2 separate regions of the Homo sapiens genome follow, and region 1 is linked to region 2. The links come from fine-mapping of genetic effects on gene expression. A gene starts in region 2. The other region holds a variant in brackets. All regions are shown on one strand. Distances are from middle to middle. Region 1 overlaps ARHGAP26 (Rho GTPase activating protein 26). Region 2 holds the start of ARHGAP26 (Rho GTPase activating protein 26).

Region 1 (16,188 bases), 220 kb before region 2:
TGACAAATTTATCCTGGTAGACCAGAGGGCCTTGCACATAGCAGGCATTTAATAAATACTGGTTGAATGACATGAGGAACCAAGGCCATCTAAAATGTTGTCAATGCACATCTTAGATTCAGTTAACATTAACTTCAAAAAGTGGCTCTTGCCTATAATCCCAGCACTTTGGGAAGTGAGGTGGGAGGATCACATGCGCCCAGGAATTTGAGACTGATCTGGGCAACATAAGGAGTCCTAGCCTCTACTTAAAAAAAGAAAAGAAAAGAAAAGAAAAGAAAAAGAAATTAGCTGGGCATGATGGCATGCACCTGTAGTCCTAGCTACTTAGGAGGAAGGCTGAAGCAGTAGGATAGCTTGACCCCAAGAGGTTGGGGCTGCAATGTGCTGTGATCATGATGCCATGGCACTCCAGTCTGGGTGACAGAGCGAGGCCCTGTCTCAAAAAAAAGAAAAAAAATCAACAATCTAGTTTGTAATTAAAAATGAATTTAGGGCTGGGCATGGTGGCTCACACCTATAATCCCAGCACTTTGGGAAGCCAAGGTAGGTGGATCACCTGAGGTCAGGAATTCGAGACCAGCCTGGCCAACATGGTGAAACCCCATCTTTATTAAAAACACAAAAATTGGGCCGGGCGTGGTGGCTCACACCTGCAATCCCAGCACTTTGGGAGGCCGAGGCAGGTGGATCATGAGGTCAGGAGATCGAGACCATCCTGGCTAACAAGGTGAAACCCCATCTCTACTAAAAATACAAAAAATTAGCCGGGCGCGGTGGCGGGCGCCTGTAGTCCCAGCTACTCGGGAGGCTGAGGCAGGAGAATGGCGTGAACCCGGGAAGCGGAGCTTGCAGTGAGCCGAGATTGCGCCACTGCAGTCCGCAGTCCGGCCTGGGCGACAGAGCGAGACTCCGTCTCAAAAAAAAAAAAAAAAAAAAAACCACACAAAAATTACCCGGGCATGGTGGTGGGCACCTGTAACCCAGCTACTCAGGAAGCTGAGGCAGGAGAATTGCTTGAACCTGGGAGGTGGAGGTTGCAGTGAGCCGAGATCCCGCCACTGCACTCCAGCCTGGGCGAAAGAGTGAGACTCCATCTCAAAAAAAATAAAAATAAAAATAAAGAACTTAGGACTCAGGAAGCTCTTCAAATATGGAAAGAGTAAATTGCCATCTGTCTAGCAGCATTTTAAGTATTAAATTGCTCACTTACAGTTGTGCTCACCCCAAGAAGGTTAAGCAGTCCGCATCAGGCGAGGCACAGAACCCAGCAGTGTCAGCTATGAAAATAACAATGTCTTGGATGACAATTCATATGGTCTCTGTATGGCAGCTGATCTTTGCATACCCTATGTGCTTTAAAAAATCACTACTGGCCAGGCGTGGTGACTCATGCCTGTAATGCTAGCACTTTGGGAGGCGAGGCAGGCGGATCACGAGGTCAGGAGATCGAGACCATCCTGGCTAACATGGTGAAACCCCTTCTCTACTAAATATACAAAAAATTAGCCGGGCATGGTGGCGGGTACCTGTAGTCCCAGCTACTTGGGAGGCTGAGGCGGGAGAATGACGTGAACCCAGGAGGTTGCAGTGAGCAGAGATTACGCCACTGCACTCCAGCCTAGGTGACAGGGCAAGACTCCCTCTCAAAAAAAAAAATAAAAAATAAAATAAAATAAATAAATAAAAAATCACTGCTGCACTTCTTAAATCATCTTGGAGCCTTTCGAATCAGTTGTGAAATAGTTAATTATTCAATAGTGTTAAGATAATAAAAATCATTTGGAGGAATAAAATCAAGGTTGGTCTTCACCTTACATCTTGATGCCAAAACAAATCTCAGGTAAATATTTATCTTATTATGGGAATCCATTCAAACAAAGATAGGATGCATAAAGTATCTCACAGCCTTAATACAGAAAGAGTAATTAACACTCAAAGGTGAATACACCAAAAGAAAAAAAATGTACAAAGGATAAACTAATTGCAAAAGGAGAAAAAGAATTCAATAACCATAGGGAATATTCAAAAACAAAAAAAAGTCCTAATTATAACAATGATAATATGTTTTACTTTTTGAAAAAGTTAAGAATTTTCTTAAACTTTGGTAGCAACTAGTATAGATGTAGGCTCAGGGAAATGGATATTCCCATATGCAACTCATGGAAGTATAAATTGGCACAGTCTTCATGAAGAGCAAGCTTCAAAGATAAATATACAGTCATGCCTCACTTAATGACAGGGATATGTTCTGAGAAATGCGTTGTTAGGCAATTTTGTTGCCCTACAAACATCATAGAGTGCACTTACACAAACCTAGATGGTATAGCCTACTACACAACTAGGCTATATGGTGTAGCCTATTGTTCCTAGGAGATAAACCTATACAGCATGTTACCATACTGAATACTGTAGGCAACTGACACACAATAGTATTTCTGTATCTAAACATATCTAAACATAGAAAACGTACAGTAAAAATATGGTATAAAGATAAAAAGTGGGGGAGGTTCCAAGATGGCCAAATAGGAACAGCTCCAGTCTACAGCTCCCAGTGTGAGTGACGCAGAAGACAGGTGATTTCGGCATTTCCAGCTGAGGTAGTGGGTTCATCTCAGTGGGGCTTGTTGGACAGTGGGTGCAGCCCATGGAGTGTGAGCCTAAGCAGGGCAAGGCATCACCTTACCTGGGAAGTGCAAGGGGACAGGGAATTCCCTTTCCTGGCCAAGGGAAGCTGTGACAGATGGTACCTGGAAAATCGAGACACTCCCACCCTAATACTGCGCTTTTCCAAAGGTCTTAGCAAACGGCACACCAGGAGATTATATCCTGCACATGGCTCAGAGGGTCCCACGCCCACGGAGCCTTGCTCACCACTAGCACAGCAGTCTGAGATCGAACTGCAAGGCGGCAGCAAGGCTGGGGGAGGGGCATCCACCTTTGCTGAGGCTTGAGTAGGTAAACAAAGCGGCCAGGAAGCTCGAACTGGGTGGAGCCCACCGCAGCACAAGGATGCCTGCCTGCCTTTGTAGACTCCACCTCTGGGGGCAGGGAATAGCTGAAAAAAAGGCAGCAGAAACTTCTGCAGACTTAAACATCCCTATCTGACAGCTTTGAAGAGAGTAGTGGTTCTCCCAACACGGAGTTTGAGATCTGAGAATGGACAGACTGCCTCCTCAAGTGGGTCCCTGACCCCCGAGTAGCCTAACTGGGAGACACCACTCAGTAGGGGCCGACTGACAACTGATACAGCCAGATGCCCCTCTGAGATGAAGCTTCCAGAGGAAGGATCAGGAAGCAACATTTGCTGTTCTGCAATATTTGCTGTTCTGCAGCCTCCACTGGTGATACTCAGGCAAACAGGGTCTGGAGTGGACCTCCAGCGAACCCCAACAGACCTGCAGCTGAGAGTCCTAACTGTTAGAAGGAAAACTAACAAACAGAAAGGACATCCACACCAAAACCCCATCTGTACGTCACCATCATCAAAGACCAAAAGTAGATAAAACCACAAAGATGGGGAGAAACCAGAGCAGAAAAGCTGAAAATTCTAAAAATCAGAGCATCTCTTCTCCTCCCAAGGAATGCAGCTCCTCACCAGCAGTGGAACAAAGCTAGACGGAGAATGACTTTGACAAGTTGAGAGAAGAAGGCTTGAGATGATCGGTAAGAATAAACTTCTCTGAGTTAAAGGAGGATGCTCGAACCCATCACAAAGAAGCTAAAAACCTTGAAAAAAGATTAGACAAATAGCTAACTAGAATAAACTGTGTAGAGAAGACCTTAAATGACCGGATGGAGCTGAAAACCACGGCACAAGAACTACATGACGCAATCACAAGCTTCAGTAGCCGATTTGATCAAGTGGAAGAAAGGGTATCAGTGATTGAAGATCAAATGAATGAAATGAAGCGAGAAGAGAAGTTTAGAGAAAAAAGAGTAAAAAGAAACGAACAAATCCTCCAAGAAATGTGGGACTATGTGAAAAGACCAAATCTACATCTGATTGGTGTACCTGAAAGTGATGGGGAGAATGGAACCAAGCTGGAAAACACTCTGCAGGATATTATCCAGGAGAACTTCCCCAACCTAGAAAGGCAGGCCAACATTCAAATTCAGGAAATACAGAGAAAGCCACAAAGATACTGCTCGAGAAAAGCGACTCCAAGACACATAATTGTCAGATTCACCAAAGCTGAAATGAAGGAAAAAATGCTAAGGGCAGCCAGAGAGAAAGGTCGGGTTATCCACAAAGGGAAGCCCGTCAGACTAACAGCGGATCTCTCGGCAGAAACTCTACAAGTCAGAAGAGTGGGGGCCAATATTCAACATTCTTAAAGAAAAGAATTTTCAACCCAGAATTTCATATCCAGCCAAACTAAGCTTCATAAGTGAAGGAGAAATAAAATCTTTTACAGACAAGCAAATGCTGAGAGATTTTGTCACCACCAGGCCTGCCCTACAAGAGCTCCTGAAGGAAGCAACAATACCAGCCACTGCAAAAACATGCCAAATTGTAAAGACCATTGATGCTAGGAAGAAACTGTATCAACTAACGAGCAAAATAACCAGCTAACATCATCATGATAGGATCAAATTCATGCATAACAATATTAACCTTAAATGTAAATGGGCTAAATGCTCCAATTAAAAGACACAGACTTGCAAACTGGATAAAGAGTCAAGACCCATCAGTGTGCTGTATTCAGGAGACCCATCACATAGGCTCAAAATAAAGGGATGGAGGAAGATCTACCAAGCAAATGGAAAACAAAAAAAAGCAGGAGTTGCAATCCTAGTCTCTGATAAAACAGACTTTAAACCAACAAAGATCAAAAGAGACAAAGAAGGCCATTACATAATGGTAAAGGGATCAATTCAACAAGAAGAGCTAATTATCCTAAATATATATGCACCCAATACAGGAGCAACCAGATTCATAAAGCAAGTCCTTAGAGACCTACAAAGAGACTTACACTCCCACACAATAATAATGGGAGAATTTAACACACCACTGTCAACATTAGACAGATCAACGAGGCAGAAAGTTAAAAAGGATATCCAGGAATTGAACTCAGCTCTGCACCAAGCAGACCTAAAAGACATTTACAGAATTCTCCACCCCAAATCAACAGAATATACATTCTTCTCAGCACCAGACGACACTTATTCCAAAATTAACCACATAGTTGGAAGTAAAGCACTCCTCAGCAAATGTAAAAGAACAGAAATGATAACAAACTGTCTCTCAGACCACAATGCAATCAAACTAGAACTCAGGATTAAGAAACTCACTCAAAACCGCTCAACTACAGGGAAACTGAACAACCTGCTCCTGAATGACTACTGGGTACATAACGAAATGAAAGCAGAAATAAAGATGTTCTTTGAAACCAATGAGAACAAAGACACAACATACCAGAATCTCTGGGACACATTTAAAGCTGTGTGTAGAGTGAAACTTATAGCACTAAACGCCCACAAGAGAAAGAAGGAAAGATCTAAAATTGACACCCTAACATCATAATTAAAAGAACTAGAGAAGCAAAAGCAAACACATTCAAAAGCTAGCAGAAGGCAAGAAATAACTAAGATCAGAGCAGAACTGGAGGAGACAGAGACACAAAAAACCCTTCAAAAAATCAATGAATCCAGCAGCTAGTTTTTTGAAAAGATCAAAAAACTTGATAGACCACTAGCAAGACTAATAAAGAAGAAAAGAGAGAAGAATAAACTAGAAACAATAAAAAATGATAAAGGGGATATCACCACCAATCCCACAGAAATACAAACTACCATCAGAGAATACTATAAACACCTCTATGCAAATAAACTAGAAAATCTAGAAGAAATGGATAAATTCCACGACACATACACCCTCCCAAGACTAAACCAGGAAGAAGTTGAATCCCTGAATAGACCAATAACAGGCTCTGAAATTGAGGCAATAATAGCCTACCAACCAAAAAACGTCCAGGATCAGACGGATTCACAGCCAAATTCTACCAGAGGTACAAAGAGGAGGTGGTACCATTCCTTCTGAAACCATTCCAATCAATAGAAAAAGAGGGAATCCTCCCTAACTCATTTTATGAGGCCAGCATCATCCTGATACCAAAGCCTGGCAGAGACACATACAAAAAAGTATTTTAGGCCAATATCCCTGATGAATATCAATGCTAAAATCCTCAATAAAATACTGGCAAACCGAATCCAGCAGCACATCAAAAAGCTTATCTACCACGATCAAGTGGGCTTCATCCCTGGGATGCAAGGCTGGTTCAATACACACAAATCAATAAATGTAATCCAGCATATAAACAGAACCAAAGACAAAAACCACATGATTATCTCAATAGATACAGAAAAGGCCTTTGACAAAATTCAACAGCTCTTCATGCTAAAAACTCTCAATAAACTAGGTATTGATGGGACATATCTCAAAATAATAAGAGCTATTTATGACAAACCCACAGCCAATATCATACTGAATGGGCAAAAACTGGAAGCATTCCCTTTGAAAACTGGCACAAGACAGGGATGCCCTCTCTCACCACTCCTATTCAACATAGTGTTGGAAGTTCTGGCCAGGGCAATCAGGCAGGAGAAAGAAATAAAAGGTATTGAATTAGGAAAAGAGGAAGTCAAATTGTCCCTGTTTGCAGATGACATGATTGTATATTTAGAAAACCCCATCCTCTCAGCCCAAAATCTCCTTAAGCTGATAAGCAACTTCAGCAAAGTCTCAGGATACAAAATCAATGTGCAAAAATCACAAGCATTCCTATACACCAATAACAGGCAAACAGAGAGCCAAATCATGAGTGAACTCCCATTCACAATTGCTTCAAAGAGAATAAAATACCTAGGAATCCAACTTACAAGGGACGTGAAGGACCTCTTCAAGGAGAACTACAAACCACTGCTCAACGAAATAAAAGAGGACACAAACAAATGGAAGAACATTCTATGCTCATGGATAGGAAGAATCAATATCGTGAAAATGGCCATACCGCCCAAGGTAATTTACAGATTCAATGCCATCCCCACCAATGACTTTCTTCACAGAATTGGAAAAAACTACCCTAAAGTTCATATGGAACCAAAAAAGAGCCGCATTGCCAAAACAATCCTAAGCCAAAAGAACAAAGCTTGAGGCATCACACTACCTGATTTCAAACTATACCACAAAGCTACAGTAACCAAACAGCATGGTACTGGTACCAAAACAGAGATACAGACCAATTGAACAGAACAGAGCCCTCAGAAATAATACCACACATCTACAACCATCTGATCTTTGACAAACCTGAGAAAAACAAGCAATGGGGAAAGGATTCCCTATTTAATAAATGGTGCTGGGAAAACTGGCTAGCCATATATAGAAAGCTGAAACTGGATCCCTTCCTTACACCTTATACAAACATTAATTCAAGATGGATTAAAGACTTAAATGTTGGACCTAAATCCATAAAAACCCTAGAAGAAAACCTAGCCAATACCATTCAGGACATAGGCATGGGCAAGGATTTCATGACTAAAACACCAAAAGCAATAGCAACAAAAGCCAAAATTGACAAATGGGATCTAATTAAAGAGCTTCTGCACAGCAAAAGAGAACTATCATAAGAGTGAGCAGGCAACCTACAGAATGGGAGAGAACTTTTACAATCTACCCATCTGACAAAGGGCTAATATCCAGAATCTACAAAGAACTTAAACAAATTTACAAGAAAAAAATCAAACAACCCCATCAAAAAGTGGGCAAAGAATATGAACAGACACTTCTCAAAAGAAGACATTTATGCAGCCAACAGACACATGAAAAAATGCTCATCATCACTGGCCATCAGAGAAATGCAAATCAAAACCACAATGAGATACCATCTCACACCAGTTAGAATGGCGATCATTAAAAAGTCAGGAAACAACAGGTGCTGCAGAGGATGTGGAGAAATAGGAACACTTTTACGCTGTTGGTGGGACTGTAAACTAGTTCAACTATTGTGGAAGACAGTGTGGCAATTCCTCAAGGATCTAGAACTAGAAATACCATTTGACCCAGCCATCCCATTACTGGGTATATACCAAAGGAATTATAAATCATGCTGCTATAAAAACACATACACACGTATGTTTATTGC[G/A]GCACTATTCACAATAACAAAGACTTGGAACCAACCCAAATGCCCATCAATGATAGACTGGATTTAAAAAATGTGGCACATATACACCATGGAATACTATGCAGCCATAAAAAAGGATGAGTTGGTGTCCTTTGTAGGGACATGGATGAAGCTGGAAACAATCATTCTCAGCAAACTATCGCAAGGACAGAAAACCAAACACTGCATGTTCTCACTCATAGGTGGGAATTGAACAATGAGAACACTTGGACACAGGGTGAGGAACATCACACACCAGGGCCTGTTGTAGGGTGGGGGGGAGGGGGGAGGGATAGCATTAGGAGATATACCTAATGTAAATGACAAGTTAATGGGTGCAGCACACCAACATGGCACATGTATACATATGTAACAAACCTGCACGTTGTGCACATGTACCCTAGAACTTAAATTAAAAAAAAAAAGATAAAAAGTGGTATTCCTGTATAAAGTGCTTACCATGAATGGAGCTTACAGGACTGGAAGTTGCTCTGGGAGAGTCAATGAGTGATTAGTGGGTGAACATGAAGGCCTAAGATATTACTGCACAATACTGTAGACTTTATAAACACTGTACACTTAGGCTACACTAAAGTTATTTAAAGTGTTCTTCTTCAATAATAAATTAACCTTAGTTTACTGTAACTTTACAACCTTTTTAATTTTTTTTAACTTTTTGATTCTTGTAATAACATTTAGCTTAAAACACAAACACATTGTACAGCTGTACAAAAGTATTTTTTCCTTATTCAACAAGTTTTTTTTGTATTTATTATTATTATTTTCCTTTTTAAGCTATTTTTGTTAAAAAACCAAGACGCAAACACAAACATTAGCCTAGGCCTACACAGGGTCAGGATCATCCACATCACTGTCTTCCACCTCCACATCTTGTCCCACTGTAAGGTCTTCAGGAGCAGTAACACACATAGAGCTGTCGTCTATGATAACAATGCATTCTTCTGGAATACCGCCTGAAGGTCTTGTTTAAGGCTGTCTGACCGCTTTTTTTTTTAATAAGTAGAAGGGGTACACTTTAAAATAACAATAAAAAGCAGACTGTAGTAAATACATAAACTAGTAACACAGTCATTTATTATCAAGTATTGCATGTGCTCTACTTTTGTATGACTGAGAGCATGGTAGGTTTGTTTACACCAGCATCACCACAAACACATGAATGATGTGTTGCAGTAATATGACGGCTACAACAGCACTAAGAGATAGGAATTTTTTAGCTCCATTATAATCTTATGGGACCACAGTGGTATGTGTGGTCTGTCATTGACTGAAACATCTTTATATGGTGTGTGACTGTATATGTTCATCAAGCAAATCTACTTCTATGCATTACGCTAAGAAAAGAATCATGTATAGCAGCCCACTGAGAGATGAATGCACAGATCTGTTTCTTATATACAAAATGTTACAAATTATATACTTCTCTGAGGAAAGTGTTCACAATTTTCTTAATATTATTTCTTCTTTCATCAAAGGAGTTTCTAAGTCACTCAACACTTCTGGTTGTAGAATAGTATTTAGAAACAAGTGTGACAGCTACTGCTAATGGACTGTACAATGTCTGTTTCCTTTTCTTCCTTAATCAGACCCTTGATATGTGGGAGCAAGATTTTACCCAGCTGAAAACACACACTCCTCTTAGGAATATGACACAGTTCTGGTCAATGAGACATAAGTGGATATATACAGGCGATTTCTGGCAAACCTTTGTTTTGCTGACATAGACACCACTCCTTCCTCTTCCTGCCTTCCTTCTCCCTGCCTGAACCACAGATGTGAGGCCAGGAGGTGCAGCAGCCTACAAGGAAGACAAAAGCCTACATCCTAAAGGATCCTCCTCACTCTAAGGAGGAGTAAAAAGACACAATGAAGCTGGGTCTTTAATGGCTTCACAGAGCCACCCTATTTGTCCCATGTGGCCTATCATATATATTAATGCCTAAAACTTACTTTAAGCCATTGTTTGTTGGATTTTCAATTGTTTGCAGCAAAACTCACTGCTAAACTGACAGACATGAGAAAATATAAAAAATTAAATGAAAATCCTACTTAAAGTACAATACCTGGAAAGGGATGCATGTTTTGTTTATATATGAATAGATGTGTGTCTAGATATATATAAACACATAATGATAGAAAAGAGTTGAAAACACAAATATCATAAATTAACCACTGTTTTCTAAGATGAGTGATATTCATTTTCCTCTTCATCTTTTTAGTTATTTTCCACATTTTCTACTGTTTGTTACTCTATGTTATTCTTTCAGTCAAAAAATATAGTTTATTTTTTCGATGTAAAAATGCGTGAAAATCTGCATTCTCTTTTCTGTACCTTTATATCTATGTTCTATAGACTTTGGGATTTTTCCTATTTCTCAGACCATTTTGAAAACAATAGAAACAAAGGACCAGGCTGGTCGTGGAGGCTCACGCCTGTAATCCCAGCACTTTGAGAGGCCGAGGAGGGCAGATCACTTGAGGTCAGGAGTTCAAGACCAGCCTGGCCAACATGGTGTAAACCTGTCTCTACTAGTAATACAAAATTAGCCAGGTGTGGTGGCACATGCCTGTAGTTCCAGATACTCACAAGGCTGAGGCAGGAGGGTCGCTTGAACCCGGGAGGTGGAGGTTGCAATGAGCAGAGATTGCGCCACTGTACTCCAGTCAGGTGACAGAGTGAGACTCCATCTCAAAAAAAAACAACGAACCAGCATAGCATCTTTAGGTCTAATTCACCGTGGGGTAGCAAGGGAAGATAAGGCTCAGAGATCACAGACATACAGGTGTCTCCATTTCAGATGCACTGGAGTAGCCGGCAGTCAGGGGACCTGTCCTCCTCCACACCACCAGCCAACAAAGGGCAACCCCTTGTGGCGGGCTGGGCAAGCACAGCAATCCCAGGCAGCTCTCAGGTCACCTGCACGAAATAACCACCAACCCCAGATGCAAGGCTGCATGTGCTATCAGAGGTGGACAGGCAACTTGGACAGCTGCTTCCTGGTCACATCAGGACAACACACAGGGAAAGTCAGACCTAGAGATGACCATCCTGTAAGCCATACCCATGGCCACCTGGACTGAAGATCCCAGGGCCTCACATCAATTTCTGGTCCATCTTCCTCCCACTCCAGAAAAAACAGGTTCAACAATCCAAGCTTGTGATTTGGAGCTAGTCTGACTAACTGCAGCCACATGGTGCCTCAAAGCTAAGGAATGCATACCATTTCAAAACCTCTCAAGAAGAAAGGTATACAACAAAAGGCTAAGATCAGTCACTGGGCAGATAAAATAGCGAGGCTGGAATTGGCTCACACTGGGTGGTGAGATCCTTCCCTTCCTTTTCAGATTCCTTCCTTCCGCTATTCAGCCAATTCCACAGGACTGCCAGGCTGTACAATGGTATAATTCCTGTTCTGCAGCCCTGCCCGCTCCTTCCTGTTTAGTAAAGTCCAAACAGTAGGACAAGACACCCTCCCACTACAAGACACCCCCTGTCCTGCCCCAGAGGGAAGCCAGCAGCCATGTTTAGGGGATCACAGCCCTGATCTCACTCCACTACTGGGATTCATACAGCTGAACAAAATGATTGTTCTCATTAAAAAATGAGCCCATGTTTCATTGCCAGTGCAGGCATCCCCAAGTGCTCCAAAGCGAGTTTGCCTGGGCTAGCAGCCAGCCATCTGGACTGCTCCAACAACTTATGTAACTTGCTGGGTTTTCCACCTTTGCCTTGGGGGATGGGGAGGTGTGTGTAAGGCAGGAAACGGACTTAGATCAAACCATCAGTCCACTGTCTGAACAGCCTGCTAAACATTTGGTCACAGGGCTTTTCAGCCTTCAAAAGCAGCATAAGGTGAGCTGGATCAGTCTAGCTTACATGCAGCAGCAGCAAAAAAGCAGCTTGAGGTCAAATGGATTGGAGAAAAGACTTCCAAGTGGACTAATGCAATGAAAGCCTGCACGAGGCCTCTTCTATGTCAATAAATTACAGAGTAAAATGCAGACAGAGAAGAGGATAGCAAAATGGAAGCCTTTCACTGAGTCGGGAACTTTTGAGGTTTAAAAAGCAAGGAATGGGTGCTGAATTCATTCTGAGCCAGGCTTTGGGTGTGGTGGTACCACGACACCACTTAGGGACAAAGGCAACTCCAGTTTGGTTTTGGGCTGAGCGTTCTGGAGAAGTGAAGAGGGAGACAGGAAGGAAGACGCAATTAATCCTTTAAAGTAGAAAGTATACAGAAAGGTCATTTGATTGAAGATAATTCTGCTCTGCAGGAAAGGAGCCAAGCTGCTGCTTATAATAATAATGACTATCAAGAGCACACTCATGGCTTCAAAAAACGTTCCAAATACTAACTTGCACCCTAGCTAATAAAGCAGACTTTACAGATTTAGGAAACCAAATCATGAGGGTAGCTCATGGCCTTATCACTTCTGAATATAGGGAGGCAGAGGAAGGTGCCTGCATGGCTCAAGAAAGACCACCAGGGCATTTAGACTACATTTTGTGTTTGTGTGTTGTTAATGCTCTGTTCATGTGGCCCAAGTTGCTTCACAGAGAGGTATTTTAAGGATGCATGTCTCATTGAATCCTCCCAGCACACTGGTGAGATAGACACTGTTATTATCCCCATTTTACGGTTTAGGAAATAAGATTAGAAAGTGAATTAATACCATACTAGTGGGTAGCAAGGTTGGGACTTGAACTCCTGCTGTCGGGCAGCAAAGCCTATGTTCTTTATCACTAACCAGCTGATACTGCTGCCACATGCAGCCTCTCTATCTGCATTTTTCTTTCCATGATGACTTTTGATGTTCATAATCACCTTTATAAAAAGGATACATTTGCAATGAAAACATGGCCAAAAGATGGTACTGGTATTTCTCAAAAGATATCCAAACATCATTACTCACCCAGGAAATGAAAATAAACACCAAGTGTGACACTACAACGACAATGACAACTACTACTACGATACACACATGCCCTAGAATGGTTACAACTAAAAAGATGGATAATTCCAAGCATAGGTGAGGGCATGGAACAATTGAAACCCTCACACATTGCTGGTGGGTATGAAAATGGGTACAACCTCTTTGCAAGACTATGTGGCAATATTTACTAAGGTAAAGATTTGTGTCCCTTATGATCCAACAATCCCACTCCCAGGAATATACTCAAGAGATAAGTACTTATGGCCTCAAAACACCTGTAGAAGAACATTCCAGACAGGGTGAGGTGGCTCACACCTGTAATCCCAGCACTTTGGGAGGCCAAGGCAGGCAGATTGCCTGAGGTCAGGAGTTCGAGACCAGCCTGGCCAACATGGTGAAACCCCATCTTTACTAAAAATGCAAAAATCAGCTGGGTGTGGTGGTGGGCACCTGTAATCCCAGCCACTCAGGAGGCTGAGGTAGGAGAATTGCTTAAACCCAGGAAACGGAGGTTGCAGTGAGCCTAGATCGCACCACCGCACTCCAGCCTGGGCAACTAAGCAAGATTCCATCTCAAAAATAAAATAAAATAAAATAAAATAAAATAAAATAAAATAAAATAAAATAAAGGTTCCTAGAGGCTTTATGCACAATAGCTCAAATTTACAAACAATCCATTGTTCAATCGAAGAATGAATAATTAGTGATATGTTCTGTACAACGAAATGCTTTCTACAACAATCAGAACAAACTACTGCTACATGGAAACATGGATGAGTCTCACAGGTATTATACTGCATAAAAGGAGCCACACACAAAGAGTAGATGGTATATGTTTCCATTTACATGAAGCACCAAGAACAGGGAAACTAATCAATGGCAATATAAGTCAGAAGAGTGGTTACCTGGAGGGAGAAGGGGAGCGAGGAAGGTATTGACTGAGTGCACTAGGGAGCCTTCTGGGATGCTGGAAATGTTCTACATCTTGATCTGGTTGGTGATCACATATTTATAAATTTGGCTTGAAAGTGACAACAAGCATTATCCACTCCAGGTGACATTCCTCTCTGAAGGCCTCACTCCGGAGTTTCCAGCTGCTGGCCAGGGATTTATAGTAGGCAGGAAGTGCTGTCTGCCCACCTCCCATACTCCGCCCTCCCCTCTGGCACGCCCACAACAGTGCCTGCAGAGAATAAACTTCATATGGAATTACCTTCTGGGATTGGGCTCACAGTGAGACACTTTCCCTTAATTCTCACACAAATACTCTCTTTGCCTGGAAGGCAAACAATACAGCCAGAACAGAAGCTGGGGCCTCCACTTCTGCATTTTCCTTTTTCCTTGATTGTGTATGGAAGAAATTTGAAAAATATTTCACAAGCCATCAGCCTGTTCCTGCTGTTTTCTTCTGCAGGGATTGATAATGTGGCCCCATCAGTGGCACTCCTAGCCCTCAAGAGATACGTCTATGTTTGCCAGATCCCAAGTGAAACATTGAGTCAAAAGGAATATGTCCCATAGTCTCTGGATGCACAGGGTTCCCAAGGTGGAAGAATCCACTTTCTGAGCAGACTCACTCCAACTGGACACACAGACTGAGCCAGAAAAAAGCAATTGCAGAGCAAAACTCTGACACCAGCTGGGACCTCAAAATTCAGTAGACTTGGGGGATGATATAGAGAGGAGAGAAACAACGCCCAGATGAAACTGCCAAGGTAACACTGTTATTTATTAAGGAGGCAGAAAGTAGAAACATTAAAAAGACAAACTTCTCTCCTACAAATTCCTATCTTCTTTAAGCTAATAACGTTTTTTTCATCTTCACCATGGTATTATCAAACCTAGCAAAATTAATAATTCCTTGATATCATCTGATAGGCAGCCCACATTGAGATTTCCATAATGGCCTCAAAAAGGTCTTTGTATAATTGCTTTGGTTAAATCAAGTCCCAACCCAAGTCCACACATTGCATTTCATTAGGTGTCTTAAGTCACTTTTGTTTTAAACAGTTTCGCCTCCTTTTTCCTTTACCCTAGCATTGCTTTATCAGAGGATATGAATCAGCAATGCTTTAATTCCTTTTTCAAAAATAAATGTGGTAAAGTGTCAAGATTTGATGAAGCTGACTGGTGAGACATGACTGGCCATTATATCATCCATTATGCTTCTTTATATTTTCCCCCAATTTTTTATCTTGAAAATTTTCAATTTTTACAAAAAAAAAAAAAAAAAAGGCAAACTCCTTTCTTGACATAAAGCTCCAGGATTAAGATAATAATAACATTTATAGGGTGTTCAAGAGGTGGAAAGTATCATGCCAATTGATTTCAATGGATTATCTCATTCAAATGCACTGAGAACTCTATGAAGTCAGTGTTAAAATCATCCCCATTTAACAGGTAAGAATCTGGGGCATAAAATTATTCTAAGTAGTCAGGGATGGGACCTAAATTCAACCCAGGTTGTCTGAAACCAGACCACCCTCTTGGCCACCATTCTATACTGGTGCTTCGGTTTCCAGTTTCAGATTGGTTATGTCAATGATGAGAGCAGCACCAGCCAACCCTGGCTATGTATTTTCTGGATGGGGACACAGGTACATAGACAGAGCCCCTCACTCCAAAGATGGCCAAGGATTTCTCACACATTATCTCATACCTCCTCATCACCCAAGAGAAAGAGAGTCGAAGAAGTGGAGAATGAATTTAGGCCAACACTGCTATTGAGGAAAGAGGACATGCTTTGACCATGACCTACCACTCATGGCCTTTGAGGCCTTGGGCAAACCCTAAGCCCCTCTGAATACAGTTAAGACCCAAGGAGAAGCGATCCGACCCCACGCCAATTAAAGCAGAAAAAAAATTTTTAAGACTGAATGTGCTCATTGTGGGAAGGCCTACAAGAACCTAGGAGTGAAATGGAAAATATTTTCAAGATGTCGGATCACTGAAAATAAGTCAGAGGAGTCAAGAGGAACCAGGTCCTTTTCCCATGGCTTTGCAAGTGATCTGTCAACCATCCCAGCCATGGGCTGATGAAACCTCTCAAGGTGCTGCTCCAGTTTCTTCA
Region 2 (16,188 bases):
CATTCATATTGTTAATTTTACCCCTAAACCTAATCCTTCCCAAGCAAACTATTTTAGCAAATAGTACCATCATTCACATAACTGCTCAGGCCAAAAATATCTGAATCATTCTAGACTTCTTTCTTTTCTCTCATAGCCCATATGCTGTGCAGCAAATCCTGTGGGCTCTACTTCCAAAAATACCCAGCCTCTGACCACCATCTGTGATGCTGTCACCCTAGCCCACGGTGCCATCATCTCTCACCTCAACTATTACAACAGCTTCCTTACTGGTCATCTTGCCTCCATTGTTGCTCCACTACGCTTGGTCTCTACACAGCTGCCTACATAATCTTTTTAAAGTATGAGTACGATCATGGCACAGCCTTCCATGGCTGCCCATCACACTTAGAATAAAACTCTAAGTCCTTTCTAGAATTCAAGATCCCTATGACCTTGCCCTGGCCTATCTCTTTGTGCATTCGCCTTCACTCTGCTACAGTCACAACTGGCCGCGCCACTGGCCCCCAAACATCCCACTCAATCTCCCCGCTAATGACTCCTACATTGGTTACCTCCATCCAAAAAGCCATTACTCTAGTCTAGGGCTCTGGAGGACATGGTAAAGGCAGAGCAGGGTCTCCGTATTTCCTGAACGAAACTCTTCTTCTGATGGCAAAAAATATATAATTTGAAACAGAAGGGGTTATAATTTTAAAAGGTAAAACGAGGCTCACTCAGAAACTTAAATCTAGAAAAACTACTTTGACTGCTAGGTTAGTATTCCTCCACTGGCTAATTTTTAGAAATGCAATGACCTTGACAGGATAACAAAGTCCCCTTTACAACTTGCTTTCCCCAGTAGCTCAATGGTGATAACAGTTCTTCCTTGGCCGGTTCTCATTTTGTCCATTGAGAGGGCTTGGATCATTAGCTTATGCAGGCCAGAATTAGGAAGTCCAGCCTGTGTGGCATCTGCCCAGAGCGATGCCCACTGGCCTAACAAGAGCAGAAATCTGAACCACAGCCTCATAAGAACCACTTCCTAATTCCTGAGATCCTGAAACTGATCAGTTAAATACATCTAAGGTTGAAGCACATGGAAACAAATAGTCCCCAAAAGAGGGCAAATGGAGAAAATATACTAAGTGCTGTTCACTTAATCATCAAAAGTTTTATGAGACAAAGTAAAGGAAAAAAAAGATCTGAATAGACATTTCAGCAAAGATGACGCACCAATGGCCAACAAACACATGAAAAGGTGCTCATCCTCATTGGTCACCAGGATAATGCAAATTAAAACCACAACGAGATACCACTTCACACCCACTAGAGTGGCTACAATCAAAAAGAAAGACAACAACAAGTATTGGCGAGGATGTGGAGAAATCAGAATCCTCATACATTGTTGGTGGGAATGTGAAACGGTGCTTCTGTTATGGAAAACAGTATGGTAGGTTTTTTTAAATAAACACAAGTTTAAATTAAACTTAAACATAAATTTACCATACAACCCAGCAAAATTCTACTCCTAGGTAAAAAATGAAATTAGAAGTGAAAACATATATACACATGAAGACACGTATGCAAACATTCATAGCAGCATTATTCATAAGAGCAAAAAACTGGAAATGACCCAAATCATCAGCTGGTGAATGGATAAACAACTTATGGTTTACAAAATGGAATATTTTCTAGCAATAAAAAGGAACAAACTACTGATACATGCTACAACACGATGAGCCTCAAACACAGCATGCTTAGTGAAAGAAGCCAGATGCATAAGACTACATATTATATGATTCCATTTAGCTTAATTTTTCAGGGAAGAGAAATCTATAGAGACAGAAAGTAGTAGATCAGTGGTTGTATGAGGCTTCAGGCAAAAATGCAGTGCCTGCAAATGAGCATGAGAAAGCTTTTCGGGGTGCTAAAAATGTTCTAAAACAGGACTAGGATGATGGTTGCATAACTCTGTAACTACAAACCACTGAATTATACACTTAAGAAAAGTGAGTGGCTAGGAGCCGTGGTTCATGCCTGTAATCGCAGCACTTTGGGAGGCCAAGACGGGAGGATCACCTGAGACCAGGAGTTCGAGACCAGCCTGGGCAACAACAAAGTGAGACCCCCATCTCCACAAATAATAAAAACAATAAAAAATAAAATCTTAAAAGGTGAATTTTATGGAATGTAAATTATAATTCAATTAACCTTTTATGAAAAATTCCCCCAAAAACATGCTGACCTGAAGCAAGTAACTGCTTTGAAAGGAATAAATATAAATATAGTGTTCTTGTGAGAGACAACCATGATCAATTGGTATGTCAATTCCAAGTGTTAGTGATCATACTGAAGGGAAACGAAATGGAAAGAAAAAAATACATTTTTATGACTTTAAAAGAGAAAGAATAGTCTTTCCTAATGACAGCTGTTGATAATTAAAACTCAACAATAAGATATTTAGCCATGAAGAGAAATGAAATCCTAACACATGCTATTAACATGGATGAACCTTGAAAATATTTTGCTAAGTGAAATAAGCCAGATATTTATGACAAATATTGTATAATTCCACTCATAAGAAGTACACAGAATAGGTAAATTCATACAGACAGCAGAATAGAGGTTACTAGGGTTGGGGGAGGGGAAAGTGGGGAGTTATTGTTTAATGGGAACAGAGTTCCAGTTTGAGATTATGAAAATGTTCTCGAAAGAGATAGTAATTATACAACATGGTGAACATGCTGAAAACCACTGCATTATATACTTAAAAATGACTAAAGTGGTAACCGTTGTGTTATGTATATTTTACAACAAACAAACCTCGACAAAGAGAAATAACCCAAATAAAAATGGGCAAAAGATCTGAAGACCCCTCACCAAAGAAGATATGCAGATGGCAAGAAAGCAATATGAAAAGATGCCAAACATCATATGTCATAAGGAAATAGCTAAATTTTTTAAAATGAGATACCACTACACACCTAGTAGGATGGTCAAAATCCAAAACACAGACAAAACCAAGTGCTGAGCAGAATGTAGAGCAACAGGAACTCTCATTCATTGCTGGTGAGAATGCAAAACAGTATAATCAGTTTGAAAGCCGGTTTGACAGTTCTTAAAAAAAACTACACGTACTATTTTATTTTATATATATATACATTACTATATAATCTAACAATTATACTCCTTGGTATTTACCCAAATGAGTTAAAAACTTATTTCCACATATAAACTGCACGCAAATGTTTATATCGGCTCTATTCATAATTGATAAAACTTGGAAACGACCAAAATGTCCTTCAATAGATGAAAGGATAAACTATGGCACATCTAGATAACAGAATATTATTCAGCAATAAAAAGAAATGAGCTACCCAGCCATAAGAGGACATGAAAGAACCTTCAGTACACATTGCTAAGTGAAAAAAAGCCAATCTGCAAAGGCCACATACTGTTTAATTCCAACTACATGACATTCTGGAAAAGGTAAAACTAGAGAGACAGTAAAAAGATTAGTGGTTGCCCGGGGTTAGTGGGGAGGGAGGGATGAATAGGTGGAGCACATAGGATTTTTAGGGTAGTGAAAGTATTCTGTATGTTACTATGATGGTGTTTATATGTCATTATACATTTGTCAAAATCCACAGAATGTACAACACAAAGAGTGAGCCCTAATGTAAATTATGGACTTTAGTTAATAATGTTATATTGATATTGGTTCATCAACTATAACAACTGTACTATGCTAATGCAGGATGTTAGAAATAGGGGCAACTGGAAGGGACAGGTATGAGGCGCTATGTGGGAACTTTCTACACTTCCCACTCAATTTTTCTGTGAATCTAAAACTGCTCTTAAAAAAAAAAAAAAGTCCATTAATGATTTAAGTGCAGGGAAGGAGGGTTTAAGCCAAAGTCAATGAATTGAGAACTACAGACTGGATGCAAATTTTTTCAGTCCAACTAAGAACACAGAATGGAGTAAAATGAAGGGATGTTTTTCAGCCAATGTTATATAAAAACTATAAAAATTTGTTTGAATTTAATTTGCTGTCATTTATGTTTGTATGAGTAATATTCAAAATGTCAATTACTACCATTTACAAATAATTAGGAAATGCCTTTGATTTTCTTTATTCACAAGGTACTGAAGCAAAGCAAAGGATCTGGGGAAAATATTTTGCTACCCAACTCCACATCCATTTGTTCCATTAGGATTTTCTGAGTAACATAATTACTCCTAAACAAAGCAGGTTGGCATCGAACATCCTTTGAGAGTTTATGCCATTCAAGAAGCGCTTATGTATTGCAAAATGCCCACGTTTAATTCTAACAAGTACAAAAGGGTGACAGGCTTTAAAGCATGTAACTCAGTGCTGACCTTTTTACTCTTGCTTTGAAAGGCAAAGAGGATGAACCACTTACTTACCTTACTGAATCACACCAAGAACAGGTTTTTGGCCTCTCTGTTCAATGCTATATTACTCAGTGAAAAGACAATCACTGATAATCATTCAGTGCTACCCCCAAAAGAAACTCTGCTGCTTTACAAAGCCAAGACATATTCAGCCACTCTCATCTGTCCCTCTAGCCTTCAAAGCCCGTGATGGAGAAAGAACTCCAAAACTTCAGAGGATAATACAAAATCTTAGCTGGTCTTTGCTACCCAGGGCTCGGAGTCTAAAAAACAACTGGCAATGTTTTCACTTAATCAAGCACCTGCTGCATGTTTCTCCTTTACGGGATCTAGATCTATAAAGAATTTGCATCTCCATTGCCAGCATCTCATTCATAAAGTGGAAGTAATAGTAACAATGATCTACCTGAACTTTGGCAATCCCTAGAGGACAGTTTTATTGCCTATGATTAACACTCAAAACCAAGTTAAATCCAAAGAGCTAGAAATACTAGTTATAAAATAACTGTAAAATAAAATAAAATATGGCTATAAAATAAAGCCACAAAAGTTTAGAGCTATAAGAGAACATAGATTATCTAAACCCAGTGTTTATATAATTATGTATTTATGTTTAAGTTGTACTGGGAAAACACTTCTGTTTATAGATATAATAAACATGACTGAAGAAAAATAATACACAAACATTAATATAGTAGTATACCACGCAGCAAGCATCTCATGATATCGGAATGTCTGAAATCCAGGACACAATGGTTGACTCCACCCTCTATTTTTAGAGGTCACCTGACCTGATCAAGTAGTAGTTAGTAGTGGTAGAATACATTAGCAGAGCTGGACGTAGAGAGAACAGAACACCGAGATCCCCATCAGTCTTTCCTCCAGATTACAGGGCTGATCCATTCCATTAGACAGCTTAAATAACACTTCAACTCTATCACTGCAATGTTTCTTCCTACCAAAGAATTCTTGCCCCCAAAAACTAGTGGTAGGAAAACTGCCAGTCACCCAAACGCACCCTCCTCAGATTCAATGCCAAAATAGAAAACACAAGTCCAAATTCTAGGGCTTGGTGCAAGAGGTTCCATTCCGGGCAAGTGAGATGGGGCAGAAGTCAAGAGCTCTGCACTGGCAGGGACTCCATCTCTGGCTCAAACCAGGTGGATTCAAAAGCTCTGGTCCTGCTGCTAGAGCTGTGTGACTCAGAGGTAATGCTTCCCCCAGTCTCTGTTTTCTCATTTGCAGAATGAATCTAAGCACATGAGATAATTATATGTGAAGCAGTGCCTGGAATGAAGTACACCTCTGTAAGCACAGGAGCAGCAAAATATTCACTCCTACACCCTTAGTGCCCAGTGCAGTACCCAGTACACCACAATCACACCAAAAGTTTGCTGAGTGAAGCAGAGAACTCACTAAAGCCAGCCTGAGGTTCAATCAAAATTCCTGGGCCCAACCTGTAAGTGGGCCCCTAACTTACTCCAAACCAGGGACCCCCATCCCCTAAACCAAGAATGGCCTTGATTATTGACAAAGGAAGGGTCTGTTCATATGTTTCAGGTAAGGCACAGCCTAAGAATCTGCCTCTAAGAAGCCTCATCACATCACAGTCCTGTGTTCATTTCATCCCAAAAGATTGGCACTTTGGGCTGCCCTGGCATTCCATTGTCTCTCTCTTCATTTTTAGAAGCAACAAGCTGACAAAATGACATCTCAGGCACCTGACTTTTGTAAGTGCCCTTTAAAGAGGCCTGGGAACAATTCCCACAGCTACGACTCTACTCTGCTAAGGCAAGATTTCTTAGCTGAAAGGTATCACCTACTAAGAAATCCATCACAGAAACAGATACAGTAACAGAGTCAGAGACAATTCCACTATCTGCCTTCATGTGGTTCCTGATTCTTAAAACTAAAAGATGGACTGAGCTATTTTTAAATGGGGAGACTGAAAAGGCACCAAAAACGTTCTCACAATCCAAAGCACTCATCCCTAGAGCACGCTTATTTGGCCAGAAAAAGAAACTCTCTGGCTCTGCAAAAGTGAAGCAGAATGCAAAATTGCATCTCTCCCCTTGTACCAAAAGGAAAAAACGCAAAAATGGTTTTACAAAAGGTCCAAGAATCTTTGAAATACGTTTGAACTTCTTTCTGAGAATTATGGATATTCCTTCTCAGACCTTTACAAGGATAACGGAAGAGGTAAAAAGGAGAGCTTGGGAGCAGGAGAGGGAGAGAGTTGGGATATGTACATTCTATTTTTAAACCCTCGCCCACAGTTTAGAGTAAAGGAACACTCTGATTCTCTACTCCCACCCCTATCACCTTCTGCTAAACACAAGAATCAGAACCTGCGCACGTACTGATTCCAGATTTAGAGATTACTGGCTGCCAATACTCCAAGGAATCGCAAGCTAACCAAGCATTCCACCCAGGGAACCCGGCGGCCTGACTAGGCTGGAGCTGCGTACAGGGAGCGAAGCAGTCACAACCCACCTTTTCCCAAGGGGAGGCAGCGCCCCCTCGGCAGGGCACGCTCCATTCTCACGGTTGGGCACTCAAGGCTGAGCAACTCTGCCCCTAAGGGAGCTGGAGCTGTGGACACGATGGGATCTGCCCGCTGGCTGCGGCGCGCTCGGCACTCTGGCCCCACTGCTGGGACACCTGCGTGCCGCGCACGCCCACGCCCACCCGCGCTGCCCCAGAGCACCACCCGCGCTGGGTCACCTCCCGACCATCCCTGAACGCAAAAGGCGGAGCGACGGGTCTCTCTCTTCATCTGATGGTTGCTGGTTCGCCCGCTTTACGTATCCTTCCTGCCTCGGAGGCGTCGACACCCGTCCCCCAGTGTACCGGGAGCAGAAACCCGGCAGACGCGCGGGCAACCCGGGCTAAGCGCCACCTCCCAGTTCCTCCCGCCCCGGAGCCGCGTCCCCGAGGGGCTCGGGACACTCACTCTTGAGCGCGCTTATGAGTGACTTCCCGTCCTTGATGAGCTCCTTGATGAATTTGTTGGTCTTGTCCAGCTCTGCTTCGTGCGACTTGAGCGTCTCTCGGAAGTGCGGACTATCGAGGCAGCAGTCGCTGAACTCGAGCGCTGGGAGCCCCATGGTGCGCGCGGCGCCCAGCCGGGGGGCGCGCCTCCGCCGGGGCCCGGGCCGCCCGCCGCCCAGAGCACTCACGCGGCGGGACCCCGGCCGGCTCCCCCGACGGCCGCCGGCTCCACAGGTGTGGCGCTGGCTCACTCCGCGCGCGGTGTCCGCCGGCGCGCAAGACTCCCGAACCGAGCTCGGACCCGGCCGAGGTGCTGCTGTTCCGGGCGCGGGCAACGGAGCGGATCGCGAGCAGGAAACGCAGCGCGGACCCGCAGCGGCGCCGGGAAGCGAGCGAGCGGGCGAGCGAGTGCAGACGCCGCCTCCCCGCCTCCTTCGCTAGCTAGCTCTCGGCAGCCTCGAGCGCCCTCTCACAGCAGCCTCGGCCGCCCCGCCGGTGTCTGGGCCGCTCGAACCTGCTAGCGATGACTTAATCCCCGCCGGGCCAATCAGCGCACCCTCCCCTGCCCGACCCTCAGGCCGCCCGAGGACGCCCGGCCCTTCCGCGGTCTTGATCCAATCAAAGGGGCCTGGAGGCAGGGTCTGCGGCTGGGGGCGTGGCCCTCGCCAACGCCTAGGTCCGCAGCGCAAACTCCGCCTCCTCTTGCCCTCCCAGCGTTGCAGACCCCGAAACCTAGGGGTGAGCGTTGCTGTGCACCCGCCCCCGCTACCTTGCCCGCCTGCTCCAGCCCGAATCCGAGCCACGCATGGCGAGTCTGCTGGTCCTGGGGGCCGAAGAGCCTCGATGTGCCAAGCATGAAAAACCTGGGGACTAGGGCTGCAGTTCACCACCGCCTGCCCTGCACTGCGGGGCAACCGATTTTACACTCAAAATACAGCCCCCTGCTCCGGGAGAATCCCGAGCGACCAAACGCTCCTCTTCCAGTCAGGCAGAAAAATGTTATTTGCATCTTAAAATTACCAGCTCTTGCCTGCAGTCTTCCCGCCCCCTACGGTCCGTCCCCCTCACGGCCACTCCTGCTCAGAACCCGCCCACGGTTCCCCTCAGCCGAAGGAGCTCACATCATTACTAGAATTTCAGCCGCCTGTTATTTTCCTGCTCTGCATCTAGCACAATTTTACATAATAAGATGACAGTCTACTGCCTGTCATCCTTCGCTACACGGTAAGCCCCACGAGGGCAAGTGCCCCTGCAATTTTCTTGTCCGCTGTTGCATCCTGGCACCTAGCACAGTGGCTGGCATTTAATAACAGATATTGAGCACTTACTATGTGCTGTGTGTGCTACGGTGATTGATAAATGTAGAATAAATGAATGGATCCTTTCCCAGAGCCATCTCCACCTCCCACGCCCAGTGCGTTGCCCTGTAGTCCCTCTGTTCGACCGCAGGACTCAATTCTGGCATCTCACTCGTTGCACTTGTCAGGCTGGGTCCCACAGGGTGTCTAGTGCTGAATTGTTAACTCCTGGAGGATAGGGACTGTCCTTGAATAAATTATCTCTATGTCTAGGAACCAGCAGCCCTCCTTCAGCTACGTGGGGGCTTCATGTTTGTTTGGGTTGGTTTGTTTTTTAAATAGGTCTGCTATGTGCAGGCACTAGCCTAGATGGTAAGAATACAAAGATGAATAACAGAATGAATTTAGCTGCTGGTGGTATTAGGTGAGATGGAAGCAAACAAGCGATAACCATGCCTTGTGATAGGATAGAAGGCCTGGGTGCTTGGGAACATGGATTTTTCACTCAGGAGGGGTCAGAGGTGTCCCATCTATATTAAGAAAGCAATTAATGTATTAAATTCATAAATGGAGCATGGTGGCTCACACCTGTAATCCATAACTTTTGGAGGCCAGGTGAGAGGATTGCTTGGGGTCAAGAGTTCAAGACCATCTTGGGCAACACAGCGAGACCCCCCCCATCTCTACAAAAAATTGTAAAATAAATAAGTAAATGTATAAATAAGTGAATGTGATCTCTTTGATAGGTGTATCTACAAATTTAGACTTGATAGCAGGTCCAGACAGCTATCTGATAGATAATTACAACCCAAAAACAATTGTTCTTCACTTGCCAAAGATGAGAAAGATCTAGAATGGAAACCCTATGAAAGTAAATCTGTTTAATGCTTTATCTTGAGCACCTAAAGGTAGGTGTTCTGGTTATCTATTAATACAGAATAAATGATACCAAAAGTTAATGGTTTAAGACAACAGCAATCATTTTATTTTCTCTCACAATCTCTGTGGGTTAGAAATTTAGGGAAGCCAAAGGCTTGAGGTCTCTCATGTGATTGCAGTTGGATGGTGACAGGAGCTGGAGGAGTGGATGGTTAGCTGGGCATCCCACTTTTCAGGTAGACTCAGGGCTTCTCCATATGGCCTTTCTCTGTGGCCCAGTTTAGGCTTCCTCCCAGTATGGCAGCCTTAAGGCTCCAGTGTGAACATATACAGCTCACAAGGAGAAAGGTGCATCACCTTTTATGACCTAGCCTTGTGAGGTGAGAGGCCTGCAGGACTTGTTTTCCAATCACAACCCCACTGATCAAACCAGGATTCATTCCAAACGGGATTCAGTGAAGCAGCCAGCAGAAACCAGCAGGCAAGGAAAAAAGACACTTTTAGTTGCCCTCACTGCTCATTAGCATAGAGACACTCCCACCATTGCCATGACAGTTTACAAATGCCATTGCAACAGGCCATGGCAATGGCCTGGAAGTTACCTTATATGGTTCTGGAAACTCCCTGCCTCCTTTCCAGAAAGTTCTAAATAACCCACCTCTTAATTAGCATATAATTAAAGGTAGGTATAGGTACAGCTGCCAACAGCCCTGTACACTGCCCATCCTGAGCACACTCCCTATGGGATAGCCCTGTTCCACAAGGAGCAGCACTGATTCAATGAAAGTTGCTTTCTCTTACCACTGGCTTGCCCTTGAATTCTTTTCTGGGCAAAGCCAAGAAGCCTCCTGGGCTAAGCTGCAATTTTGGGCCTTGCCTGCCCTGAATCACTTGGAAGCCACATACTTCTACCACCTTCATTGGCTACAAGCAACTCATAAGCCCACCCAGCTTCAAAGGAAGGAGATTAGACTGTACCTCTTGATGGGGGAATGACAAGAATGGGAGATATTATAGTAGCTATTTCTGAAAAACATAATCTGCCACAGTGGGCCCAGCATAAATGGTAACATTCAATACATGCTAAATGAATGAAATAAAATGTGATCCACAATTATTTGTTTTATCCCATTGAGGAATAGTAGGCAAATGTGTGTAAAATAATATATATGTATTAATAATAACAACAATAATATATCAGCTATCATTTGTTAAGCTCTCAGTTTATGCCAGGCACTATGGTAAATTATTTACATGCATTTATAGCTGGCATAGTGGCACACGCCTTTAATCCCAGCTACTCAGGAAGCTGAGACACAAGAATTGCTTGAGCCCAGGAGGCAGAGTTTGCAGTGAGCTGAGGTCGTGCCACTGCACTCCAGCCTGGGTGACGGAGAGAGACTCTGTCTCAAAAAACAAACAAAAAAATTATTTACATGCATATAATCCCTACAGGGTGAGACTGGTACTATGATAGTTCCCATTTTTTCAGATAAGAAATTGAGGCCCAGAGTTGTAACTTGAACCAGCTTACCGAGATAATATTAATAATTCTATGTGGCACAAACATATAACTTAATATGCCCATTCACAGACAAATATGTAAATATGTGAATAATGTGTAAATTTCTCATAAATTTAATATGGAATTTCCACAAAAAACCTCCCACACTTTCAGCAGTATTACTAGAAAGAGAGAATCAGAATGCAGCAGTACAGGCTGGGTGTGGTGGCCCAAGCCTGTAATCCCAGCACTTTGGGAGGCCTAGGCAGGCAGATTACTTGAGGTCAGGAGTTCGAGACCAGGCTGCCCAACATGGTGAAACCCCGTCTCTACTAAAAGTAAAAAAATTAGCCGGGTGTGGTGGTGAATGCCTGTAGTCCCAGCTACTTGGGAGGCTGAGACTGGAGAATCGCTTGAACTTGGGAGGCAGAGGTTGCAGTGAGCCGAGATCGCACCACTGCACTCCAGCCTGGGTGACAGAGTGAGACTGTCTCAAAAAAAAAGAAGAATGCAGCAGTACAGAAACTGGCGCATGGAGGGTGCAGTTGTCTTTCTCTTCCCAGAAAATCTGCTCATAAGGGTAGAGATTTTGTATTATTCAATGCAGCAACCCCAGCTTAGAACAGCAATTGGAACTTCAAAGGTGCTGAACATCAATGAGCCGGACACATGTTTAATAAGAAAGAAACAGGACTCATGTGACAACATCAGTTATGGCCATGCACATAAATAGAAGAGAACAGTTAAGCCGCAGAAATCACTTTCATATGAAATAGAGAAACAATTTAGGCAACATTTGGCCTAAATCCTTTGGATGAATGTCTGAATTCCTTAAAATTAGCAATTAGTTCAAACAGTTCTGCTTTCAGTATCAGTATATTTTAAATCTACATTTTTTCTGGCCTCAATGGTCCAAATAACTTTACACCTGCCATGCAATTACCTCCCATTTGTAGAAACTTTACCACTGGCAAAGCACTCCCATGTACATTGTCTCTGAGTCCATATAATCAGAAGTGGGCATGGACCAGTCACACATTGGTTCCTGAACACCAGCTTGTGAACAGATCTGATCCGTGATGAAGCATTCATGGGTCCTTATGTAACTGAGAAGTTCAGGGGTAGATCCAGCTTCAAGGCAGCCTCTGGGGATCTAGAAGATGATAACAGCACAGGTTTCTCTCTCCATCCCCAAGCTGACCTTTGTCTGTGGTGGCTTCAGTCTCAGTGACTCTCTCAGCTTCTCCAAATTACGCCCAGCAATATTAGCAGGAAGAGAGTTTTCTAAGAATTCCAATAGAAATGACAAGACTGGAGTCAAGGATAAAACAGCCCCACTCCAAAAACGTAAAGTACTGGGGTGAAGTTGTTCCACTAAAGGACAAGCACAGCGCATTTAACAGGGAAAACGGGGATCACTGCTGCACAGGCAGAAGCAATAATGTATAGTGCATTTGACCTGTCCCCAACTCCCTCACAATGAATGCGCCTCCTGCCACATTCTCATGGCCCCATAATTCTAGTTAGCACTTATTCATGCTTTTTTATGGTTGATGCCATATTTTGTGCTGCACAGTGACTTCTCCTTTTTATTATTACTAGACAAGATACCAGTTTTCCTATTTTAAAATAACAATTTAAGGTTGATGTAAATGTTCTATATCTCAGTTAGGGTGGTAGTTACACAGGCATTGCATTTGTCAAAACTCATGGGTGCGTTTTATTGTGTGTAAACCTCATTAAAGGTTGATTTTAAAAAATAATGATGATGGGCCTGGCGCGGTGGCTCATGCTTGTAATCCCAGCACTGTGGGAGGCCAAGGAGGGTGGATCACGAGGTCAGGAGATCGAGACTATCCTGGCTAACATGGTGAAAACCCGTCTCTACTAAAAATACAAAAAATTGTCTGGGCGTAGTGGCACGCGTCTGTAATCCCAGCTACTCGGAAGGCTGAGGCAGGAGAATCGCTTGAACCTGGGAGGCAGAGGTTGCAGTGAGCCAATATCGCACCACTGCACTCCAGCCTGGGCAACAAAATGAGACTCTGTCTCAAAAATAATAATAATAATAAAATAATGATGATGGCAGTGATGCTGATATTTATTAAGCTTTTGCTATGTAACGGGATCTGTGCTAAGCACTCTATTACATTTCTTTATTTAATGTTTACTACAATCCTGAGAATTAGATGCTGCTACCATCCCCATTTTACAGGTAAGGAAACTAAAGCTTAGAGAAGTAAGATGCCTAATGTAGTTACTGATAGAGCTAGACTTAGAATTCAAATCTATCTGGCTTAAATAACTACATCCATATAAAATATCTATAGAAATACATTTTATATGTCTAAAAACATTGTTAAATAATAATAGCCTAACACCTAAAACTTGAATGAGATCACATATGAATGACAGAGGAGCGATTTCATTATCGCTCCTTATGAGCTGTATGTGGTTTTCCAGGGCTTGTTGCTGGTATGTCCCAAATATGTCAATAATTATACAAGCCTCTAATTTGCTTTAGCTTTAAATCACAGGCCCTACAATTTATGTAGAAGCAGTTGATTGAAACAGACATAAAATTCTCAGTTTCCTTAAAGAAAAAAGAATAATCTATCCTCATAAAGCCACTGGCTCATAGTTCTTTAAGGGAGGTAGCAGCACCTATTTAACATTCTTTGGCTCAAGAAATTAGTGAAACTCATAGCATTTGTTCTACACAAGTTTTACATGTTAGCAATACTTTTATTTTCAGTTTTCATGATTTATTTCATGCTTGCCACTTTTCTACCTAATATTCACTCTTTACCTTACTCATTTATTGAAAGTGCTTATATAACATTTACTGTATACCAGATACAGTTCTAAACACTTTAAAAATATTAACTCAATTAATACTTAGCAACCCTATTATTATCTTATCTCCCTTTACAGGGGAGGCAAGTGAAATGAATCACCTAAAATCATATAACTAATGAGTGGCAGAGCTGAGATTCTCAAAAGGTAGTCTAGCTCCAGACTTAGGTTACGTTTCTAGCAGAACCCCAATGTGCCCAACTAAAGAATTTAATTTCTTAGGTTTTCACACAGCTGGTGGTGGCCATGTGCCACTTTTCTGACCACTGAGATACACTTGGAAGTGTATTGGCTGGGGCTTTGGAAAGGTTTGTGTGTTTTTTTGTTCTTGTTGTTTTTTTAATAAAGAGACAACTGCTGACACACACCTTCTGCTTACTTCATTTCCCTATTCTTTTTGTCTTGAATGTGGATGCAATGCATGGAGCAGCAGCAGCCATCTTGCAGTCATGAAGATGAATATCACATGCTAAGGATGGCTGGATGGGAAAACAGAGGGAGCCAGGTAGCTTGGTGACACCCACGAGCCACAATACCCATCTCCAGAGTACCCACCTCCCAACTACTCATCACATAAAGAGGGAAAAAACAACCTATTTGTTTAAGCTACATTAATGGGGTTTCCTGTTACTCAAAGTCAAAACTACTCTAGTTGATATAATGCATTAATTATAAAACCTATTGTTTCACCTCCTCTTGGATTTTCAGCAGCTGCATTAATCCATGGTTCTTAGGCAGTTTTCACATTAGAAAATCATAGTTTTAAGGATGATTTCTTAAACATTAAAAGATGATATCTGCATTTACAGGGCAGGAATATGTATTAAATGAGGAAAAGTATTTAAGCAAAAGGACACTCTATTGATAAAAATAAACTGTTCAAAAGCTGATATGAAACCAGAAAACTATCAAAGACAATTTCAACAGAGACCCAGAATTATCTGGGTCAATAAAAATAATTGGCCTATTCTTCTATAATTGTTGGTGCTAAAATGACCAAATAAATTAGTTCACTTCAGTAACCTAAACTCAAGCATTCCTATGTGCCTTGCTCTCTTTCTTGCCTCTGAATCTTATACATGAGTATATGCTTTAAATGGACAATAGCATATTATAGATCCTGAGAAATCCTGTGTTAAGTAATCCTTGAGATTTTGCTTAACCAAGTATTTCTCGTAGTTCTTTGAGCACAGAATCCTGTTTTTCCCCCAAACATTACATCCTATGCATAGTGTTCTATAAAATGCATTTAGGAGGGTGTGGTGGCTCACGCCTGTAATCCCAGCACTTTGGGAGGCTGAGGCAGGTGGATTACTTGAGATCGGGAGTTTGAGATCAGCCTGGCTAAGATAGTGAAATCCCCTCTCTATTAAAAATACAAAATTAGCTGGGCGTGGTGGCGCATGCCTGTAATCCCAGCTACTCAGGAGGCTGAGGCAGGAGAATTGCTTGAACTTGGGAGGCGGAGGTTGCAATGAGCCGGAATCACGCCACTGCACTCCAGCCTGGGTGACAGAGTGAGACTCCGCCTCAAAAAAAAAAAAAAAAAAATGCATTTAGGACATAAACACTAACATAGACTGCAGGAATAAGGACATATAAGATAAAGCGATAATTTCTAGTCTTCTGTCATTTTAGTTATTGCAAAATAGGAAGTCTGTCATGAAGCATTAGCAAACTTTCTAAAGCAAGTGGGAAACTATCACTTCCCAACTTCGAATCCTTATTGATGGATGGGCTTTTCATCCATGGGAATTCACATTTCTTTTGATGGCTCCGGTTTTGAGATGATGCTGTGGTTTTTAGTGAGTGCATGTGTTTGTTGAAGGTGGCTTAGTGGCAGTGAAGAGGGCAATATTTCAATAGATAAAGTATTCTGATCTTCTTTTCATCTATGGAGAAGCCAGGATGAAAAATCAATGCTAAAATGGATTATCCTCCATCTAAACACAGGGCGAATGGGATACAATGTCTGTTAGGGGAGAGTGAATATTGGCAGATTTCTTTACTTCCCCATTTTCCTTTGTATTTCTTTTCTGGAATTTCCCATCACTATATTTCTATTTTTGACTTTAAAAAGTTAGTAGCTGTTGGCCGGGCGCAGTGGCTCACACCCGTAATCCCAACACTTTGGGAGGCTGAAGCAGGTGGATCACGAGGTCAGGAGATCGAGACCATCCTGGCTAACATGGTAAAACCCCATCTCTACTAAAAATACAAAAAATTAGCCGGGCGTGGTGGTGGGCGCCTGTAGTCCCA

The links. PIP is the estimated chance that this variant, and not a neighbour inherited with it, causes the effect.
Region 1: its variant is the best candidate, but not a certain one, in a credible set for the expression of ARHGAP26 in whole blood (TOPMed, PIP 0.65).

Annotation. Positions count from the first base shown.
Region 1 is chr5:142,977,912-142,994,099 of GRCh38, reverse strand. All of the region lies in intron 11 of ARHGAP26 (Rho GTPase activating protein 26), which reads right to left. It overlaps LOC107986457 (a long non-coding RNA gene), which reads right to left. Exons shown (of 2, transcript XR_001742909.3): 2 at 15,317-16,188. Among named protein-coding and RNA genes, the nearest start is that of ARHGAP26-AS1, 120 kb to the right of the region's middle. RefSeq lists enhancers at 10,568-11,409, 11,410-12,252. The variant G/A (reference allele first, on the strand shown) is at 8,145.
Region 2 is chr5:142,762,082-142,778,269 of GRCh38, reverse strand. ARHGAP26 (Rho GTPase activating protein 26) reads right to left here and starts at 7,893. Exons shown (of 23, transcript NM_001135608.3): 1 at 7,355-7,893. The coding sequence starts at 7,508. RefSeq lists an enhancer at 6,419-7,254 and silencers at 7,550-7,669, 7,680-8,089.